Linked DNA regions of Homo sapiens. The protein of the gene in region 2 purifies or fractionates together with the protein of the main gene of each other region. This does not show direct contact. Each region holds a gene or a part of one and is shown on either strand. Other genes may lie near its edges.

Region 1 (3,649 bases), on a different chromosome or scaffold from region 2:
GGCCAGCTCGTGGCGGAGCTGCTCATTATCCACCAGGGCCTTCTGCTTCTGCTTCCGCTGCTCCTCCAGCTCACCCTCCAGTGCATTCACCTGGCTCTTCAGCTGCGCGATGTACCGCTGGGCCTGCGGGAGGAGGTGTGACGTGGGGCCCTGCCTGGGCCGTGAGGGGCCCTGGCCCCCACCCATCCCCACCCCGCACCTCCAGCTTGATCTTCTCCAGTTCAGAGCGGAGCATTTCCACCTCTCTCTTCAAGCTCTCAATCTGGAGGTCCCTGGGGACAGAGGTCCTGGGGTTCAAGTTAAGTCAACCAGAACAGTCAACAGACCCAGCACAGGAACCTGTCTCCTCCTCAGTGGCCACTCAGGATTTGGGCACCTCACGGGTTCATGTTCCCCACCTATGGCCTTTCCAGACAGAACTGTCCAGAGCACAGCTCAGCTGAGCCCGTTTCCAACCACCCCCAGCCCAGTCGGCTCCTCCAGCCCTCACCTGTCGTCCTTCACAGACCCATTGGGGGGTCCAAACGTCTGATCGAAGAGGTCAGCCACCACCTGCCACAGCAAAGCATGGTGACCCCACTCACCTGTGCCCTCCAGGCCGGGCAGTGGGCAAAGGGAGGGCTGGCCACCCGACACTCCCGTTGGCCTCATGCTGCAGCTGGAGGACTGGGGGACACGGGCTGGGCAGGGGGCTCACCACTGGCTCCCCCGCGGGGGGCCCTGTGCTGATCTCAATGAGATTCTCCGGCTCCTCATCTTCCGGGGCCTCCTCGGGGATCACCACCACCGGCTTGATGTGCTCAGCCAGGGCTGAGGCCCGCAGGAAGTTAGGGGGTCCCTGCAGGGGCGGCAGGTGGGACCTGCTCAGCTGTCCCCTAAGCAAGCCCTCCTTCCGCCATCTCCATAGCCTGTGTGGGGCCCAGCCAGGTGCCTGGGGTCCTCAAAGGGCCTCGGGGCCCTCTTGGGGGTGGTACCTCGGGCAGCCGGGGGATCTGGATGAGCCGCTTGAAGTACAGCATGTCGGAGGCTCTGCGGAAGAAGTTCCTGAGGCTGCAGAGATGGTGGGAAGTTCGGGTTCAGGAAGGGGCCACGGAGCCTCTCCCCCACCGGCCTCAATCCTGTCCCTGTCCCAGGCAGTACCTGTGAAACTGCTCGTGGAACCGGTCCCTGTGGCCTTGCAGGGTGTCCGCAGGGAGACCTGGAGGGTGGCACAAGTGTAACAGGACTTCTCTGCACACTGCTCAGGGGCTCACCTGCCCTGCCTTGTTCCTCCGTATGCTACAAACTCACAGATCAGAGATCACCTGAGACCGGGCCAGGCCCGCTCTCCCATCGGGATGGGGAGACCTGTGGGAGACGCTGTGGGAGGGCTCAGTTCAGACTGAGCTAGAGAAGGAAACAGCGAATGGAAAGGAAGGCGCTGCGGCCACATCTCACCTAACCCACACCTGGCTTCGGGAGGCACTAGCAAGCCGCTTTCACCAAACACGTTGGTCCCAGGCTGACACTAACACAGTGGTTCTCAAAGTGCGGTCGAGGGACGAGACCCTTTCAAGGGGTTGGTTAGATCAAAACTCTCCTAACACCCCAGACACCTTTTGCCTTTTTGCGCTTGCACCCCCAGGGTGCCTGGCGGGAGATTCCTGGGAGCAGCTGGGGCCTCCGTCTTGGCCGAGCCAGGCATTTAGTCGTAAAAATGAAAACCAAGCCACTCACTAAGTTTTTTGCTTGGTAAAGTAGTGGGTTTTTTTTTTTTTTTTTTCATAAAATATATGTTATTTCTATTAATGGGCAGTGGGTTTATTACTGCCATTTTTAAATGAATAAACCTCTAATTTTTCGATTTTCCTTTTTGACAGTGAATGTCTAAGCCATATAAACACAGCCTTCCGGGCCAGGGGTTGCCCTGGGCCACTCACAAGAGTGTAGCTTGAACAGGAGCTTGACCGTGTAGTGGTAGAGGTGGCTGCAGTCCTGGATGACCTGGATGAGGGGGGCCAGGCGGCACTGGCCTGAGGACATCTGGGATACGGCGATGGCCGTGTTGAGCTGTCGGAAAACTGTGCAAAAGGGGCAGGAGGAAGAACGTGAGCCCTTGGGAGCTGGGCAACCTGTCCAAGGTGGTCCAACTGTGAAGCAGGGCCCTAAGCCAGCTCCCACACACCAGTGTGCCCCCTGCCTCCAAGACGGGAGCCTCATGTGCTGGTGGCTGCCCCAGGTCAAGACCAGATGCTCCCATGAAGGAGGTCAACGGCAACAACAAGGTCAGGGCAAAGGAGCTCCCAGCCCAGCTCAGCAAGGGCTTCCAGAGACCTCCACCTGGGAGCCCAGGACGAGGTGCCCGACTGACAAGGGTGACGGATAGCTCCATGCCCACGGGCCTCAAACCCACGCTGAATGTTAGAGCAGGAAGGAGGCTCACGATGGAGCACCCCAAATGCCTAACTTTACAGATGTGGGAACAGGCAGGGCTTCTGCCAAGTAACACGGCACTAGGGTCACAGCTTGGCTCTGCACACCCCAAGTGACCCTGAAACCTCGCTTGCCCCCAGGGCCCATCTCCCCTGCCCCTGACACCCCCAGGGCCCGTCTCCCCTGCCCCTGACACCCCCAGGGCCCGTCTCCCCTGCCCCTGACACCCCCAGGGCCCGTCTCCCCTGCCCCTGACACCCCCAGGGCCCGTCTCCCCTGCCCCTGACACCCCCAGGGCCCGTCTCCCCTGCCCCTGACACCCCCAGGGCCCGTCTCCCCTGCCCCTGACACCCCCAGGGCCCGTCTCCCCTGCCCCTGACACCCCCAGGGCCCGTCTCCCCTGCCCCTGACACCCCCAGGGCCCGTCTCCCCTGCCCCTGACACCCCCAGGGCCCGTCTCCCCTGCCCCTGACAATCGGGCCTTGTATCAGAACTACCAAGTGGGAGGGACAAAGGACAAACATGAGGCTGCCTCCTCCTTGGCTGGCAGCTTCTCTGGGGCAGAGAGAATGACAAAGAGCAGGCAGCTGGCCAGCACGGGAGAGCGGCCAGACAGCCCCCGCTGCACAGACCTGTGCCCTGGCCCCTCAGGTCCTGCTCCTGCCTTGCCTGTGATGGGACCACTTGCAAATCTCTGCAGTGACAGGAGAGAGCCTGGGGGGGAGGGGCAAGAAGGAAGACACAAAGTGCCGCCCCTTGCCTTTTTAAAAAAGTAATCTCTAATTACATGTCATGCTAAGTATGTTTTCCTTGCAAAAAATTACAGCACACATAAAGTACTGCTTGGATCTTCAACACGTATGTCCATGCTGTTCGGCAATCTGCTTGATTTCACACAGTAGAATGTTTTCTAGATCTTCCCGGCCATCCCAGATTCGACACATCTCTCTTCCCACCACCCTCCGTTCTCTGCTCTGCACAGACAGCGAGACGCAGCCTCTGCTGAGGCATGTTTAGGACGTTTGTGTTTCTTTGCTGTTACAGGTCCTGAGGCAGGGAAGCCCCTGTACCTGTCACCTCTGCAGATCTGGGAATTTCTCCAGCAGATGCTGGTACACCCCATTTGTGCTTCATCAACACACCAGCGTCACCAGGTGGGAAGCGTGCCTGTGAGTGTTCTCCACTTCCCTCGTGGGGCCACTGCCTGCCCACACTGGCCTTCTCCCATGCCAGGGGT
Region 2 (3,649 bases):
TCAGTGGGAGGTAACTGAATCACGAGGATGGTTCCCCCGTGCTGCTGCTCTTGTGATAGTGAGTTCTCACAATATCTGATGGTTTCTTAAGGGGCTTTTCCCTCTTTTGCTTGGCACTTCTCCTTGCTGACACCATGTCAAGGACATGTTTGCTTCTCCTTCTGCCCTTATTGTTAAGTTTCCTGAGGCCTCCCCAACCAGGCTGAACTGTGAGTTAATTAAACCTCTTTCCTTTATAAATTACCCATATAATAAAGGGTATGTCTTTATTAGCAGCATGAGAACAGACTAATACACATGTTAATCCTCCGCCTTCAAAACAAGTATTTAATTTTCTTCTGAAAACAGTACAATATTTATTAGCTCTTACTACTCACCACATTAATGAAAGAGCAACCTATCTGAATAGAAAAGGCTTGACCTTTAGATTCAGTTCAACTTGGGGTTGAATCCTACTTTAAGCTGTCACTTACTCATTATGGCTTAGTAAGTGCCTCAGTTTCCTCATCAATAAAATGGGGATCAAAATAGTAGCTATCTCATAGGACACCACTGGGATGCTTACATGAGAATCTATGCAAAATGTTTAGAACAGTTCCTAGCACAAATAACAGCTCAATAATTGTTAGATATAATTACCATTACTACTGTTTAATAAAGATGTTTTAATTAAATGAAATGATACAATTATACCTAGTTGACAGTATGTTTTAAAGATCAGCGATAAGGCCAGGCATGGCGGCTCATGCCTGAATCCCAGAACTTTGGGAAGCTGAGGTAGGATGACTGCTTGAGTCCAAGAGTTTGAGACCAGCCTGGGCAACATAGTGAGACTCCATCTCTATAAAAATTTAAAAAGTAGCCAGGCATGGTGGTGAACACCTGTGGTCCCAGCTACTCAGGAGGCTAAGGCCAAAGAATCGCTTGAGCCCAGGAGGTTGAGGCTGTAGTGAGCTGTGATTGTGCCACTGTACTCTAGCCTGGGCAACAGAGAGAGACCCTGTCTACAAAAAAAAAAAAAAAATTAGAGATAACACAGTATTTCAGTGATTCTAAGATGCTCATTTTCTCACATTTCAATATCTCTGACATTGGAATGCCACTTGTAATTCATGATTTATTACAACTATAATTGGAAGCATTTTTAAAATTGAAAAACAGATTTTTAAAACAAAGTAATTCTTATTGTGTTTTCAAGAAACTTCAACACAAAAGAAACTCAGGATTCAAATGAATAGGTTGGCTCATTTTATTCAATATTTAGATTTATAGAATATATGCAGATATTTCCAATGACTAATATTCGTGTTTAAGACATAAATTTTCAAAAGGGTAATTAAAGGTTATTTCTTATAATTTTCTACCTTCAGAAACACTTTTGTTTATAAAGAGGGGTTGGGTGCAGTGGCTCACGCCTGTAATCCCAACACTTTGGGAAGCCAAGGCAGGCAGATCACTTGAGGTCAGGAATTCAAGATCAGCCTGACCAACATGGTAAAACCCCATCTCTGCTAAAAATACAAAAAGTAGCCGGACATGGTGGTACATGCCTGTAATCCCAGCTACTCGAGGGGGCTGAGGCAGGAGAATCACTTGAACCCTGGTGGCAGAGTTGGAGTAAGCCGAGATCATGCCACTTTACTCCAGCCTGGGTGTCAGAGCATAATCTCCTCTCAAAAAAATAAATAAATAAGAGGAGGGAGGAAAAGCTTCAATTGAGATTGCCCTAATAGTCTAATTTTAAATCTCTCAACTTGCTCAGGCTGGGCAGGTATGCAAACATAAAGGTTTTGAAGATGGAAAGGTCCTGAGAGATAGTAGACTATGTTTTCACCTGCAATTGCCTTGACCTGAATGAATGCACTCCACTCTGGCCTTTCTTTCCTCTTAGCTCCTAAGGAATCCACAGATCCACTTTGGATTACCCTCTTCTAAGGCCTGCTCACACCCTTAACAGGACTTTTCATATGGGATCCCAAATGGATTCTCCCTCCCACCAACAGCTCTCATACTTGACCAGAGCTCTCATCTGTCCTCTATAAACATCCAAACATTCTTTGCCAAAACAAATGCTAAGAGACCAGACCAGTCTCAACACAGGAGCCAAGCAGCTCACCAGAACTTCTCTCAGGCTTGATTTCCTGGGGATGAGTTAAATACCTGCTTCCAGAAGTGCAGGAGATTCACATCAAGCTCTATGAAGACAGTTTTATATGAGAAATCAGCAACTTTCCATCTTCCCTGACAGCTCTGTAAATTTGTCATAAAATGCATTCCCAAATTCATAGCAGATTAGCTACATTATGTATTACAATGCTAATGCAAGACTGAAATAGTTTAGAACACCACACAGCACTTATATACATATATATGAAGTTCCTGTTGTGAAAGGGGAATAAATATCATATTCATGACTAAAATAGGGATTCACCTCTGACAGAAAAGAATTTGCATAGAAGTAAAATCCTCACTTCAAAGATATCAACTCTGGCCTGGTGCAGTGGCTCATGCCTGTAATCCCAGCACTTTGGGAGGCTGAGGCAGGCAGATCACCTGAGGTCAGGAGTTTGAGACCAACTTGGCCAACGTGGTGAAACCCCGTCTCTACTAAAAATACAAAAAAAATAGCCAGGCATGGTGGTGGGTGCCTGGAATCCCAGCTGTTTGGGAGGCTGAGGCACGAGAATTGCTTGAACCTGGGAGGAGAAGGTTACAGTGAGCCAAGATCATGCCAACTCACTCCAGCCCAGGAGACAGAGCGAGACTCCATCTCAAAAAAAAAAAAAAAAGAAAAAAAAATCAGCTCTGCAAATCTTCATGTCCACTACTGTTATGTTTCCAATTCAAAGATCAAGTCTATATTCTACCACATTTTATTAAAATACTACGCACTTACATTAATATGCTTATAACTAGCGGTGGTTCACGCCTGTAATCCCAACACTTTGGGAGGCCAAGGCAGGCAGATCACTTGAGGTTAGGAGTTTGAGACCAGCCTGGCCAACAGGGTAGAACCCCATCTATACTAAAAATACAAAAATTAGCCAGGCATGGTGGCACGTGCCTGGAATCTCAGCTACTAGGGAGGCTGAGGCAGGAGAATTGCTTGAACCCAGGAGATGGATGTTGCATTGAGCCGAGATCACACCATTGCACTCCAGCCTGGGCGAAGAAGCGAGACTTCACCTCAAAAACAAAAAAGGCCAGGCGCGGTGGCTCAAGCCTGTAATCTCAGCACTTTGGGAGGCCGAGGTGGGCAGATCACAAGGTCAGGAGATCGAGACCACCCTGGCTAACACAGTGAAACCCTGTCTCTACTAGAAATACAAAAAAAAAAAAAAATTAGCTGTCCCAGCTACTCAGGAGACTGAGGCAGGAGAATCGCTTGAACCCAGGAAGCAGAGGTTGCAGTAAAGCTGAGATCTGGCCACTGCACTCCAGCCTGGGCAACAGAGGGAGACTCTGTCTAAGAAAAAAAGAAAAAAGAGATAGTAGACTATGTCTGCTACATAACAGGTATTCAGGTTATGATTGATGAATAAATGGATTGAAAGAATGGAAAAATCATTAGGGAGTTCAATATTTTTAAATAAAATTCTTATAAAGTAGAGTAATTCTTTTATTCTTTTGCAATAATATTTATCTTTTT
Region 3 (3,649 bases), on a different chromosome or scaffold from region 2:
CTTCTTTCTCTTCCATTTGAGATAACAACTGCTTCTTAATGGCAGCAATTTTTTGTTCAGCTTTTCTCTTCAACTCTGCTAATTTTGCAGCACTTTCTGACTCAAGCCTATCTTCCAATGCCTTTAACTCCTCCTCTTTGCTTTTCACACTTAAATTCACATGTTCTAATTCTTTCTTCTTAGTTTCAAGTTCAGCTTTCATGGAATAAACTTGGTTTTCAAGTGTTAAGATTTTTTCTTCAGCTTCTTTAACCCTGTTGTCCTTTTCTTCTCCTAACTCTTGAAAATGTTGAAGTTTCTGAACCAATTCTTTGTGTTCAATATCCTTTTGTTGATTGTAATTTTTAAGAACTTCATTTAAGGACTCTATTTCAATAGTTTTCTGGGTAATATGGTCCTCTAATTCCATAATTCTTGCTGTTTGAGACTTTAACTCTGTTTCTAAATTAGACTCCTTTTTCTCCATCTTGCTCTTGTCGTCTTCCATTTCACCCTTTAAACAATCAAATCTTTTATTTTGCTGATCAAGCTCTTCCTTCAATAAATTTATCTGCTCATCCTTTTCATAAGCTTCCTTTGATTTTAACTCAAGCTGGATCTGCAATTCTTTAACAGTGTTTTGATGCTGTGTAAATCTTGACTGTGCTTTCTTCTTCCATTCTGAGAATTTATTGGACCAGTCATCTACCTGCTCAAGAGCAGAAATTTTCTCTTTACTCAGAGTGTCAACTTTAAAAGATAAATCTTGCACCTGATCCAGCAATTCACATTTTTCTTCATCATACTGCTTTCTTAGTGATGAAATGGCTGCTTCTTTTTCGGATAGGCTGATGCTATTTTGAAGCTGAACATTCAAATCAGTTAGTTGTTTACTAAGACTGCTAATCTCAACTTTTTTTTCTTTAAGCTCTTCTTTCATCAATGTGACAGCATTGATGTTTTCAGATAACTCTTTCTTCAACTGTGTTATACAAGACTCCTTTTCAGAAGCAGCCTGTTGCTGATTGCCTCCTTCCTTCTGTAAGGCTTCTTTTTCTGTTACAAGACTTTCAATATCAGCCTTCATGCTCTTAATTTGATTTTCTTTTTCTTCTAACTGATGAGTAGCCTGTTGAAAAGAAATATTTAGTGTATTTTGCTCCTCTGTCAACTGTCTAAGTTGTGCTTCTAATTCAGAAACTGTGCAAGTTTTAATTAACAGTGCCTCCTTAACTTTAGTTGTACGGTGCTGACAATGAGAAATCCTAGAAAGAATGGCATTAGTTTTACTACTACTAATGTTGATTAGCTCATTTGTTTTAGCTTCTAATAAGGCTTCGGTTTTCTTACAGCAAATATCTAGCTGAATCGCTAGTTCCTCAGACAGTTTTTTAAATTCCAAGCTCTTGTCCTCTAGGCTTTTGTTACTTTTTTCATGTGAAGATTTCAAACTCTGGAATTCTTCATCTGTGGTTTTCAACTTGCTAGTCAACTCAGAAACCTTCCGCTTATCTTCTTCTGCCAGCATCTTCAGTTCAACTAGCTGCTCTTGAAGAAAAGTATTTTCCTTCAGAGACTTATTCAAGTCAACCTCTAGCTTTTCAAGATGAGCTTTCAGTTTAGTTTCATCTTGTGCAAGAGAATTCACATGGGCAGACTTCTGCTTTAACTGTTCCTGTAATTCATTTAATGTTGTATCCTGCTTAACACCTTCTTCCTTCAGCCATGTTATTTCCTTGTTCATCTCTTCTTTTTCACACCCAAATAGGAGGATCTTTTGTTTCAGTTCTGCTACCTCTTGTTCTTTTTCCTGTAATTGGATTTCATGTATTTCCTGAAGTTCTTCAGCTTGCTGATTAAGTTTCTTTTCCCAGATTGATATGACATCATTGAGTTCTCGTCGATGAACCTCAGTAAGACTTTCTATTTGTTCTTTTTGGTTTGTTTCCAGTCTTGACACTGCATCACTGATTCCAGCTGAGTTAGCCTGTGCCATTTCCAGCATTTTGGCATTAAACTGTTTTTCTTTCTGACTAAGCTCTAGAGCAGTATTTTCAAGCTCTTTCTTAAGTTTGGCTTCCTGATCCAGTAATTTTTTCTTTAACGTTTCTTGCATCTCCTTTGCTTTCTGCTTAACTTTTTCCATCTTTTTTTCTTGGTTTTTAAATTTGGTTTCATATTCCTCATTCAAAATATGAATACTGTCCTCCTTGGCTGACAATTTCTGTGTGAGTATCTCAATTTCTTTCTTCTGTCCTTCTCTCATTTGTAAAATCATATTTTCCTTTTCCACCAAGATTTGCTTTGTCTGTTCCTGTTCTTTGTTACCATCTTCAAGTTTGGACTCATAGACTTGGGTTAAAGATTTTACTTTTTGCTCCATTTCACTATTTTGTTTTTCAAGTTGCTGCATTAAGTCCTGCACCTGGATTTTGTGAGCATCTAACTCAGTACAAACATCTTTCTTTTGTGCTTCAACTTCAGCAACCTGTTTGGTAAGAAGAATTCTTTCTGTTTCCAAATCCAACAACTTCTGCTGCAATTGGGCCAACTGTTCCTCATATGCTTTTGTCTGCTCATGTGTGGCACTCTGGTAAGACTGAAAAACGTCCAGCTTAGCAGATGCCTGCTGGAGTTCCCCTTCAGACCTTTTAATATCTGCCTCTAAATTTTCTACATGAGCCTGATGCTCTTTCAAATGCTTGTCCCTTTCCTTCAAGAGAAGCTCAAGTTGATTAATTTGATCTTTTAATGCCTTCTCAGTCCTCTGGATAGATACCTCGTGTTCTTTAATGATACTGTCAACTTGCTGCTGGTGATGATTTTTCTGTTCATCCATCTTGGCCTCTAATTCCTGCTTCATTTTATCTGTTTGATCTTTCAGAACAGAAAGTTCCTCTTCTAGTTTGTGACGGGCTTTTAATACTTCTGACAGTTCAGAAGATAATGATTCTAGTTCTGTTTGCTTCACATCAAGCTTTTCTAAAGTCTTTTCATTCATTTCTTCTATGTGGGCCTGGAAGATAATCTCTTTGTCTTTCAACAATGTTTCTTTTTCTTGTTCACACTTTTCCCTAAGTTTTTCCATTTCAGTCTGATATTGTTGCTTTAAGACTTGGAGTTTTTCAGTCCAAAGGGCATCCTGCTGATGCTTAAGGCTTTCCAATTCTGTCTTGTGTTTTTCAACCATGACTGTAATCTCCTTATTGTGCTTATTTTTTTCAGCTTCCAGATGAACAGCCAAATCTTTTGACTGATTTTTGTTTTCTTGTAAGCTTTTTTCCAAAGAACTTTCCAATTCAAGAATTCTCTGTTAATTAAAAACAGATGCATTTTTATTAAAGTACGTACTTGTCTACTAACAATGATACACAGACATGATGTCTACCACCTACCTGAAGATCAAAATTATCATACCAAACACTAGAAAAGACAAAGAATCTATGCTCAATTACTAAAGGAATCATATAACAAAGAAAAGATTATGGCAAGGCACAGTCCAACAGTTTGGGAGGCCGAGGTGAGCAGATCACTTGAAGCCGGGAGTTTGAGACCCAGCCTGACCAACATGGCAAAGCCCTGTCTCTACCAAAACATACAAAAATTAGCCGGGCATGGTAGCATGCGGCTGTAGTCCCAGCTACTCGGGAGGCTGAGGTTGGGGAATCCC

The links.
Region 1: the proteins of ANKRD26 (region 2) and HIP1R fractionate together in Homo sapiens (co-fractionation; one large-scale study listed by BioGRID). This does not show direct contact.
Region 3: the proteins of ANKRD26 (region 2) and GOLGA4 fractionate together in Homo sapiens (co-fractionation; one large-scale study listed by BioGRID). This does not show direct contact.

Annotation. Positions count from the first base shown.
Region 1 is NC_000012.12:122,852,454-122,856,102, reverse strand, and holds part of HIP1R (huntingtin-interacting protein 1-related protein), read right to left. Parts: intron 2,061-3,649; coding exon 1,920-2,060; intron 1,199-1,919; coding exon 1,141-1,198; intron 1,051-1,140; coding exon 975-1,050; intron 839-974; coding exon 698-838; intron 553-697; coding exon 491-552; intron 273-490; coding exon 200-272; intron 124-199; coding exon 1-123. UniProt on the Homo sapiens protein: Component of clathrin-coated pits and vesicles, that may link the endocytic machinery to the actin cytoskeleton. Binds 3-phosphoinositides (via ENTH domain).
Region 2 is NC_000010.11:27,093,993-27,097,641, forward strand, and holds part of ANKRD26 (ankyrin repeat domain-containing protein 26), read right to left. Parts: intron 1-3,649. UniProt on the Homo sapiens protein: Acts as a regulator of adipogenesis. Involved in the regulation of the feeding behavior.
Region 3 is NC_000003.12:37,323,228-37,326,876, reverse strand, and holds part of GOLGA4 (golgin subfamily A member 4), read right to left. Parts: intron 3,290-3,649; coding exon 1-3,289. UniProt on the Homo sapiens protein: Involved in vesicular trafficking at the Golgi apparatus level. May play a role in delivery of transport vesicles containing GPI-linked proteins from the trans-Golgi network through its interaction with MACF1. Involved in endosome-to-Golgi trafficking.